Linked DNA regions of Homo sapiens. The protein of the gene in region 1 purifies or fractionates together with the protein of each later gene. This does not show direct contact. Each region holds a gene or a part of one and is shown in the gene's direction. Other genes may lie near its edges.

What was found.
Region 2: the proteins of SUV39H2 (region 1) and ZNF644 purify together in Homo sapiens (affinity purification with mass spectrometry; 3 studies listed by BioGRID and IntAct, with this or other methods). This does not show direct contact.

What each region holds. Positions count from the first base shown.
Region 1 is NC_000010.11:14,894,155-14,899,365, forward strand, and holds part of SUV39H2 (histone-lysine N-methyltransferase SUV39H2), read left to right. Parts: intron 1-2,691; coding exon 2,692-3,363; exon of another isoform or gene 3,364-5,095; coding exon of another isoform or gene 5,096-5,158; intron 5,159-5,211. UniProt on the Homo sapiens protein: Histone methyltransferase that specifically trimethylates 'Lys-9' of histone H3 using monomethylated H3 'Lys-9' as substrate.
Region 2 is NC_000001.11:90,913,864-90,918,690, reverse strand, and holds the end of ZNF644 (zinc finger protein 644), read left to right. Parts: intron 1-536; coding exon 537-639; intron 640-1,700; coding exon 1,701-1,893; 3' UTR 1,894-3,387; downstream 3,388-4,827.

The sequences.
Region 1 (5,211 bases):
GAAAGGAGGAAGAAATCCTTAGGCTTTAGTGGGGCTCAATTTGACAAATACTAAAATGTACATCTAGGCTTTTTTTTTTTTTTTCCTGGAACCGCAATATATATTTCCACAGAATTACAGTTTTTGTGCATTTCTGCACACCATGTAATCACATTTTTTAAGAGAAGAAAACTTTTGACCAATTTTCAAAAGAAAGCAAAGTTTTTTTTTTTTTTTTTTTTTTTTTTTTTTGAGACGGAGTCTCGCTCTGTCGCCCAGGCTGGAGTGCAGTGGCGCGATCTCGACTCACTGCAAGCTCCGCCTCCCGGGTTCACGCCATTCTCCTGCCTCAGCCTCCCGTGTAGCTGGGACTACAGGCGCCCGCCACCACGCCCGGCTAATTTTTTGTATTTTTAGTAGAGACGGGGTTTCACCGTGTTAGCCAAGATGGTCTCGATCTCCTGACCTCGTGATCCGCCCGCCTCGGCCTCCCAAAGTGCTGGGATTACAGGCGTGAGCCACCGCGCCCGGCCGCAAAGTTTTTAATTCACAAAGATTACTGCTTGTTGAATAGAATATAATGAAACAAAATATTAAGATGCAGATAGTGGGGATAAAATAAGCCCACTCCTGGGTGGGCGCCTGGTTCCTGCACAGCTGCCTCATGGTGTCCCTCAGCCCAATTTGTGCCTCAGCAACATGGCAGATATCACATGGCTTAGACCTTTTGTCATTAATGCATTATGACTGTTAAAACAACTGTCATGGACCTCTGTACTTTGTAATAAAAACTTTCTTAAAATTTTCAGGGAAAAGCAGTTATCTCAATTAACAAGATTTTTCAGTATCTAAGACTTAAAATGATAATGTAACTGTCCAATGCAGTTTAATCACCTTTTTATCTTAGAAGACATTTTATGATCTAATGTTACCCTTGGGCATGTGGCTATATATTATTCCAGAAGAAAAAAAAAATTACTGAGACTTTACTTCAAAATTTGTTAGACACACTTAACTGTGTTTTTTATCTTTTATTTTTTACTTTTATTTTTTTTTTTTTTGACATGGAGTCTCACTCTTTTGCCCAGGCTGGAGTGCAGTGGCACAGTCTTGGCTCACTGCAACCTCCTCCTCCTGGGTTCAGGCGATTCTCCTGCCTCAGCCTCCCAAGTAGCTGGGATTACAGGTGCCTGCCACCACACCCGGCTAATTTTTTGTATTTTTAGTAGACAGGGTTTCGCCATATTGGCCAGGCTGGTCTTGAACTCCTGGCCCCAAGTGATTCACCCACCTCTGCCTCCCAAAGTGCTGGGATTACAGGCGTGACCCACCGCACCCAGCCGGAACTGCCTTTTTAAAAAGAAACTTAAACGTGGCATTGCCTTACTTTAAGGGAGGAAAACATAGTCATTGGAGTGAAAAGACAAGATACCATGGTGCCTTGTTGCCAAGGCATCGTGGCCAACAACAGTCTGAGGGATAGATTAGAATAGTTGCTCTTAGGTGGCTTGAGTGCCTGCTACCTAATCCAGTCATGGGTGAGTCTAAATAAAATCAGCATTCTCTAGAAGAGAGCTGTCCAATAGAAATGTAATGCAAGCTGCAGATGCCATTCAACATCTACTAACCACATTGAACAAAGTAAAAAGAAACAGCTGAAATTGCTTTCAAGAATGTATTTGATCCAATATATCCAAAATATTATTTCAACCTGTAATAGTTTTAAGTTACTTAGTGTTCTTTTTTTTGTATGATACAAAGTCTTCAAAATTCAGTGTGGGTTTTTTTTTTTTGCTTTTTTTTTTGTTTGTTTGTTTTGTTTGTTTGAGACTGAGTCTCGCACTCTGTCGCCCACGCTGGAGTGCAGTGGTGCAATCTTGGCTCACTGCAACCTCTGCCTCCCAGTTTCAAGCGATTCTCATGCCTCACCCTCCCTAGTACTGGCATTACAGGCGTGCACCACCACACCCAGCTAATTTTTGTGTTTTTAGTAAAGATGGGGTTTTCCCATGTTGCCCAGGCTGGTCTCGAACTCCTGGGCTCAAGCGATCCACCCACCTTGGCCTCCCAAAATGCTGGGATTACAGGCATGAGCCACCGTGCCCAGCCTCAGTGTGTATTATATTTTAAGCATATCTCAATTCAGATTGGCCACATTTCAAGTTTTCAGTAGCTGTATGTGGCTCGTAATAACCGTATTGGATAGTTCATCTCTAGAACATCTAGAGAATGTGTGCCCATGATGTTGAGAAATGAGTTCCCTTGTGTCTGGTGTTTGATATTAAGTTATGGACGTTAAGAATGCCTGAATCTATTGCTGGCCAAGTAAGCCACTAACCTAGGTCATAAAGAGTTAGCTTTGGGACCATTTATTTCCATGATCAAAATAAATACATCTGGGTTTAACCTGAATCACCATTTAGTAACATAGTCATCAGTTTCAGTACCTTTGTCTTTTTCCAGGTAAAACTCTTTAGCCTCTTATCAAACATGTTATGCCACATCTAAATTCCATATTTTATGTAATATAAGGAAAAATAGTTTTATTTGTATGATTTATACTTCATGTGTTAGGAACCTGTGACTACATGTTCTGAACTGTTAGTAAGAAAAATGGTATTGGATACCTTACTCTTTAAGATTTTTAATTATTTTTGGTAAAACTGGGAAATAGCCGTCTGATTTGCATTTTATTTTCTTTTGTATTTTAAGGATATGGAATATTATCTTGTAAAATGGAAAGGATGGCCAGATTCTACAAATACTTGGGAACCTTTGCAAAATCTGAAGTGCCCGTTACTGCTTCAGCAATTCTCTAATGACAAGCATAATTATTTATCTCAGGTAAAGAAAGGCAAAGCAATAACTCCAAAAGACAATAACAAAACTTTGAAACCTGCCATTGCTGAGTACATTGTGAAGAAGGCTAAACAAAGGATAGCTCTGCAGAGATGGCAAGATGAACTCAACAGAAGAAAGAATCATAAAGGAATGATATTTGTTGAAAATACTGTTGATTTAGAGGGCCCACCTTCAGACTTCTATTACATTAACGAATACAAACCAGCTCCTGGAATCAGCTTAGTCAATGAAGCTACCTTTGGTTGTTCATGCACAGATTGCTTCTTTCAAAAATGTTGTCCTGCTGAAGCTGGAGTTCTTTTGGCTTATAATAAAAACCAACAAATTAAAATCCCACCTGGTACTCCCATCTATGAATGCAACTCAAGGTGTCAGTGTGGTCCTGATTGTCCCAATAGGATTGTACAAAAAGGCACACAGTATTCGCTTTGCATCTTTCGAACTAGCAATGGACGTGGCTGGGGTGTAAAGACCCTTGTGAAGATTAAAAGAATGAGTTTTGTCATGGAATATGTTGGAGAGGTATGTTTCATTTGCCACGTAGTAAATGATGGACATGCAAGGTTTATACTTTTGGAAAATTACCTTTTTATCTCTTTAAGAGATACTTGGTACATTTTGATATTTTCATTTGCAGATATGTAGAAATTTATTCAGATTTAGGAGAAGAGTTCACTGGCATATTTAGAAATAAAAAACTTTTATATGAATAAAAAATATACGTTAAAACAAATTGATATAGTCATCTTTCAACAAATACACATTCCTACTAGTCAAACCTAGGATTTGTAAAATTTAAAATATGACAACTGTTTTTACCCAAAAGTCCTAAGAAGAAACTCAGATGTAACACATGCTGCTTTGAAACTTGAAAGTTTTAATTTACTTCATCTATTTGACCAAATATGATTAAATGTAGTTGGCAGAACTCTATTTTGGATCAACATGAAAGATACTATATTTATGAGTTTTGTAAAATATACACAAGCATTTATTGCATCCATAATCTGTAACTTACTTTTGAACTGTGAAGACCATTCTCAAAACTACCATACAAATACTAGCAAATTTATTTGTATACAAATCATATATATGTATATATATATATAAATGTAAAAAGTATTTGCCGTGTGTCACATACTATTCTAAGCACTTGATGTATTAATTCACTAATCCTCTCCAAAACTCAGTGAGGTAGTACTGTTTCTTTTTTTTTTTTTTTTTTTTTTTTTTTTGAGAAGTAGTACTGTTATGTCCATTATTGTAGAGAAATTGAGTACCTTGCCCAAGGTCACACAGGTCACATAGTAATAAGAACCGAGATTCAAAGCTCTAAAATCAGTAGTCTTCACCATGGCACCACACTGCTTCAAACTGAAGGGTAGGTTGAGCTGTGACTAGAAAGACACAAGCATGGCTACATATCTGGAGTTGTCAACTCTGGATTTTTTAGTTGGAATTGGGTCACCTATAATTATCTGTATTCATCTATAATTCTGAAACTAAATTAGATGGCTGTTTTGATTCTTACACTTTTAGACAGTGGTAGATTATTATAAATTATTCAGTATACAAGATCTTGTATAATCAAATTACTCTTTTTGTTAACCAAAATTTTTTAAGTTGCATTCTTAATGAGTGCAGCAGCCAAATTTGGTTGGTAACATAAAGTACTTTAGACACTTTTGGTTTCTTAAGCCGAGCGTGTCATAAAACTTGTGTTCTTAAGAGCAGAACTGTAGATGACGATCTTAGACTTACAGAATTGCATGAAAATAACATATTCTACAAAAACAAAACCTTCCATTCCAAAGTTAACATAGCTTCTCCCCTGTATTTTTAACAATTTTCCATTTGTAACTGCATATATATAAGTTATAGGAAAAATGTGCCTGGATCATATTTAGAGCATATACTTGCAGATTTAGTCCTTAACATTCAGTTGTGTCCTGTAGAGAGCTATAGTTGTATAGCTTTTTGAACATCCTAATTATAATGAAAGTAATGCAGTGTTCCAATGTACTGCTCAAATCCTGTTTAAAAAGTCATAAATCAACCAGTTACAGTTAATCCCAGCACTTGGGGAGGTCAAGGCTGGAGGCTCACTTGAGCCCAGGAGTTCCAGACCAGTGTGGGCAACATAGTGAGACCCCACATCTCTATAAAAACTAAATCATTAGCTGGGCATGGCGGTATGCACCTGTGATCCAGCTAGTCAGGAGGCTGAGGCAGGAAGATCGCTTGATCCCAGGAGTTAAAGGATACAGGGAGTCATGATGGCACCACCGCATTCTAGCCTGAGTGACAGAGTGAGACCCTGTTTAAAAAAAAAAGGTCATCAGTCTTTTGCATTATCATTTTTCTTCCCCT
Region 2 (4,827 bases), on another chromosome or scaffold:
ATGAAAATTGATTTTTCCTTGAGCTTTTAATTACATTATCCATATTCCCTTACGAAGTTTTCCAAGTATAGAAGACCTACTTAATGGAGCAGTAATCAAATGCAAACTTAATTTAATGATCTCAAATAAAAGGTTCTACTTTTCTGGAAATAAGATTAAACCAGATATTAAAATTATGTATGATTATAAAAGTAAAGATTACCATTATTGTAATAATTGACCAATTTAGTACTTTCAAGTTATTTAGTTACATTTTCTCAGTTCTAGTTTGGTGTGGTAAAGCATTATTTGAAAAGGCAGTATAGGAAGAATACAGATAGTATTCTTCAGTACAGATAATACCGCTGTACAGTACAGATAATATTACTGCTATTACAGAATCAGCAAGTTGAATGCATGCTTCAGGGAATAGGGAAATGAATGCGGACTTTTTCTAACTGATTTAGATGGTCTGTCTGACCTCTCTAGAAAAATATGTGTGTATGTATATTTTGAAATATATAAGGAATGTTAAGTCTTTCTCTTCCCCTTTTTAGCCTTAGATTGTAAGCAAAAGAAATCAAGGTCAAGATCTGGAAGCAAGAAGAAAATGCTAACATTACCTCATGGTGCTGACGAGGTTTACATTCTCCGATGCAGGTATATGCCTATATTGCCAAATCTGATCAGTTTCTTCATACTTTGCTTTGAAACATATTAGCTATTTCATTTGGGATTTTTAATTTGTGGCAGAGTGCATTCTCAACAATCAAGTTATAAATGAACTTTTGGAGATAGGCTTAAAATCTTAATTCAGCTCACAATATCCGTACTTCAACAACTAATGAATCAAGTTTTTTACATTAGCCAATAGTAATGTAAATCTATTATACTGTGATTTATTAAAGTAGCTTGGCCAGGTGTGGTGGCTCATGCCTGTAATTCCAGCACTTTGGGTGGCCAAGATGGGTGGATCACTTGAGGCCAGGAGTTCAAGAGCAGCCTGGCCAACATGATGAAACCTCGTGTCTACTAAAAATACCAAAATTAGCCAGGCTTTGTAGCGGGTGCCTGTAATCCCAGCTACTTGGGAGGCTGAGGCAGGAGAATTGCTTGAGCCCAGGAGGCAGAGGTTGCAGTGGGCCGAGATCGTGCCACTGCACTCCAGCCTGAGCGACAGAGCAAGACTCTGTCTCAGAAAAAAGAAAAAAAAACTGGCTTTCCTTGTGTTTATTTGGTTTGTATGGTTTAATTTTGTTTGGTTTGATGTTTTGTTGTCTTGAGTTCTCGCTTATTGGGAACACATTTTCTCTCCCCTCATAGTCACGCCTTCTTCCGTACTCACACTCACACACAACACACATGAAGAAACATAGACACAATGCCATTTAAGGAATGCTAAACTGGGGAAGGGTCTTTTCTAAAGAATGACATATTTTGGAGTAATAGTTGTTGTTTCAAGTGAATTAAGATGTGTAGATGTTAATTTTAAAATAATAATGCTCCCACCTATACAAAGATTACTGGAGTTTATTATAGCTGTTAATAAACATATGAATTGGGAGTTTTGATGTTTTATTAAATCATTTGACTTTAGAAACTTTATCAATTGCTGTCTTTAAAATATGATAAAGTTTATTCCTTATGTTTTAGGATTTTGTGTGAATTAGTTTTAAAGAAAGAGAATTGGTCATGTTAAGAGAATTGTTATCTTTCTGTAGGTTTTGTGGCCTAGTCTTTCGAGGACCCTTGTCTGTTCAGGAAGACTGGATTAAGCACTTACAACGACATATTGTAAACGCTAATCTTCCACGGACTGGAGCTGGCATGGTGGAAGTCACGTCACTACTTAAAAAGCCTGCCTCCATTACAGAAACTTCATTTTCTCTACTAATGGCCGAAGCAGCTTCATAGAACCAGGAAACCTTTTAAATAGCCAGTTTGAATTGGATGTAAATTTGAAATTCTTTTTTTTTAAGCCACATTAAATTATCTGTTTATAAATACTAAAGCAGGAAAATGGGGGGAAAGTGAATTACAGTGACATCAGAGCAAATTGAATACTTAAAACAGTAAGTAGTCTATATATTTTATATAGGGTGGAAGATGTGTTTTTAAGGTTTATGAAGTTTTGTTGGTTAACTGTGTTCACTCAGTAAAAGAGCAGTACATGTAAGCAGCCATTAATAAACTGTTGCACATGGATACTTATAGACAGACTTATTGGACAATTATGTTTTTTGCAGTGTTACCAGAATCAAGGCTCTGTTTATTCCCCACAAGACTTGCATAGAAAAATAAGATATTATATTTTGTTTGTATGTATTTAGTGTTTTGTATAATACCAAGAACCGCTGACTAAATTTACTCAAATTAGGGCATTAAATATCATGTACTTCATAGTTTGAGACTGTTCACTCAAATAGGGCAGAGTACTATTCTATCTAGATGTGTAAGTGTTTTTTTTAAAATCACATGGAACGGTTTTTTTTATACTAAAAAGTGGAGGGAGATTTGTTTAAACAAGTATTTCTAAAAGAAATATGTACATAGTTCTGGAAATTATTTGTGGTAAGGAAATATTCTTTACTCCAGTTGCATTTCTCAGACAATAAAGTGGTGCATCCATGCTACCTCCTACTTTGTCAACAAAGATGCTATTTACCCTTTACATTTTTGTATCATAATAGATTTTAAAAATCTAATGTTCTTTATTGCAAGACATTCTTTTGTTAACAGGTTTGTTTCTTTTTAATGTTTTACCTAAAATTTGACATGCTTACAGGACAGGTTTGCCTCTTACTTTATTTAACATTGTAGAAATGTAATTAATAAACAATGCTCACTACACAGTTTAGAATAGACGTTCTCATTTATATTATCTTCCAAATTTGATCAGTTAGCAAAACTTAATACACCAATTAAAATATTTCTACATATGAGAATGTTTACAATTTAAATTTTAGAACTTGTTTTGGATGTGATTATATGTACGAAAATCGTGTAACACTATGCTCATGCTAAGAACCGACATAACAGAATTACTGAAATAAATGTGCTGTGAGGAATGGAAAATATGGTGCAGGTGTCTTGGTCATGATAAATTGTGATTCTTTTTAAAAATTTTTTCCAAAAACAATTAGGTATTTTAATCTGAAATCAGATTCCTTTACAAACAACAAGTTTTTGTATGCAAGCACCATTTTATTTCATGTAGTATGGCTAATACTATAGTTGAACCAAGGATATGCATTGATTCTTTGCTTCGTATGTAAATAAAGTTAAAAACAGTTAAAATAAGGAGTATTTTGGTAGAGTATATACATACCTCACTGCCAGTGAAATTGCTTTCCTATGGTATATCTCCTTACCAGAAAAATCTCTAAATAAAAAAAGGTTTAAAGAAAATTAAAATGTGAAACATTTCTTATTTTTATCATTGGTGGTAATAGTTCACTTCAGGTTGTGTTTCATTGGATTTAAATTGTTTATCCTTGCCAGGTTACTTGGATCACAGAGCATAGTTTTTCTAGAATCACCTCATTGGTCAATATAATGTATGTGAGAAAAATCATTTTCCCCCTTTCATGATTAATCAAACCTCTAAATTCAGAGCCATCTTATATGCAAAATTAGAAGGTTGGACTAGTTGGATCATTCCCAACCAAGGGTCTCCTGATCCTTAGGTTAATAGATAAGGGAATAGTACTTGTAAGTTATTTTCAATTTTACAAAAGTCCCGATAAAAACTATGTATTTGTCTATAGTGACAAAACTAACTAAAACATCCCATTTCTTTACTTTTGACTGAAAATATACCAAGTCTGTATATATTGGTTATCTCTTACTGAACAAGTTTCGTTGATAGTTATATGTCTTTGAATATATATTTTTAAATTGGAAGACATACTACATAGCAAGTGGAGTCCAGAAGTAAAAACCAAACAAACAAACAAAAATCATAGGAATCTTGTGGGAAGGCTAGTAATCACTAGAGCCCCTTTCCACTCTAATTCTTTTTTTTTTTCTTTAAAGACAGAGTTTTACTCTGTCACCCAGGCTGGAGTGCAATGGTGTGATCATATCTCACTGCAGACTCAACCTCTCAGGACTCAAGTGATCCTCCCACTTCAGCCTCCCAAGTAGCTGGAATTAAAAGCACATGTCATCACTCTTGGCTAGTTTTTGTATTTTTCGTAGAGACAGAGTTTTACCATGTTGCCCAGGCTGTGCTTGAACTCCTGGGCTCAAGAGATCCTTCCGCCTCCGCCTCTCAAAGTGTTGAGATTACAGGCATGAGCCACCACACCTGGCCTCCTAATTCTTACACTTCTATGATTTTGTCTTATCAGGCCAAATATCAACATGTGTGAATACAAGTAGAAGAATTAGTTTGACCACAAGTTTCGGAATCAAAACTACATTTAATTTTAAAATATGTTGAACTATATGTAAACAATTATTTCTCCTTCTAGTTATATAAAGAATTCAGTCATCAGAATAAAATATTTCACATCAGAAACAGTAGACTAGAGTGACTCCTGAAAAGTAAATTAAGCAAAGAGCATTTTTCATAGTAAAGATATTTGGGTTACAAAATTTAAAGAATTCTTTAGGAAGCATTCAAAATTCGTCTTTTATTTGGCAACTAGAAAATTAATAATATGTTTTCATTTGGTTCCCACTAGAAGAAAAGTATAAAATATTGTCTCAATTTACATGATAGATTTTTATGTCAGCATATGGCCTGATTTATCATTCAGTATTGACTAATTTTCTTTTAATTCTTTTACCATTGCCTGAGATATGCAAGCTTCTAATGCTAAATTAGGGCTTTAAAAAATTCCA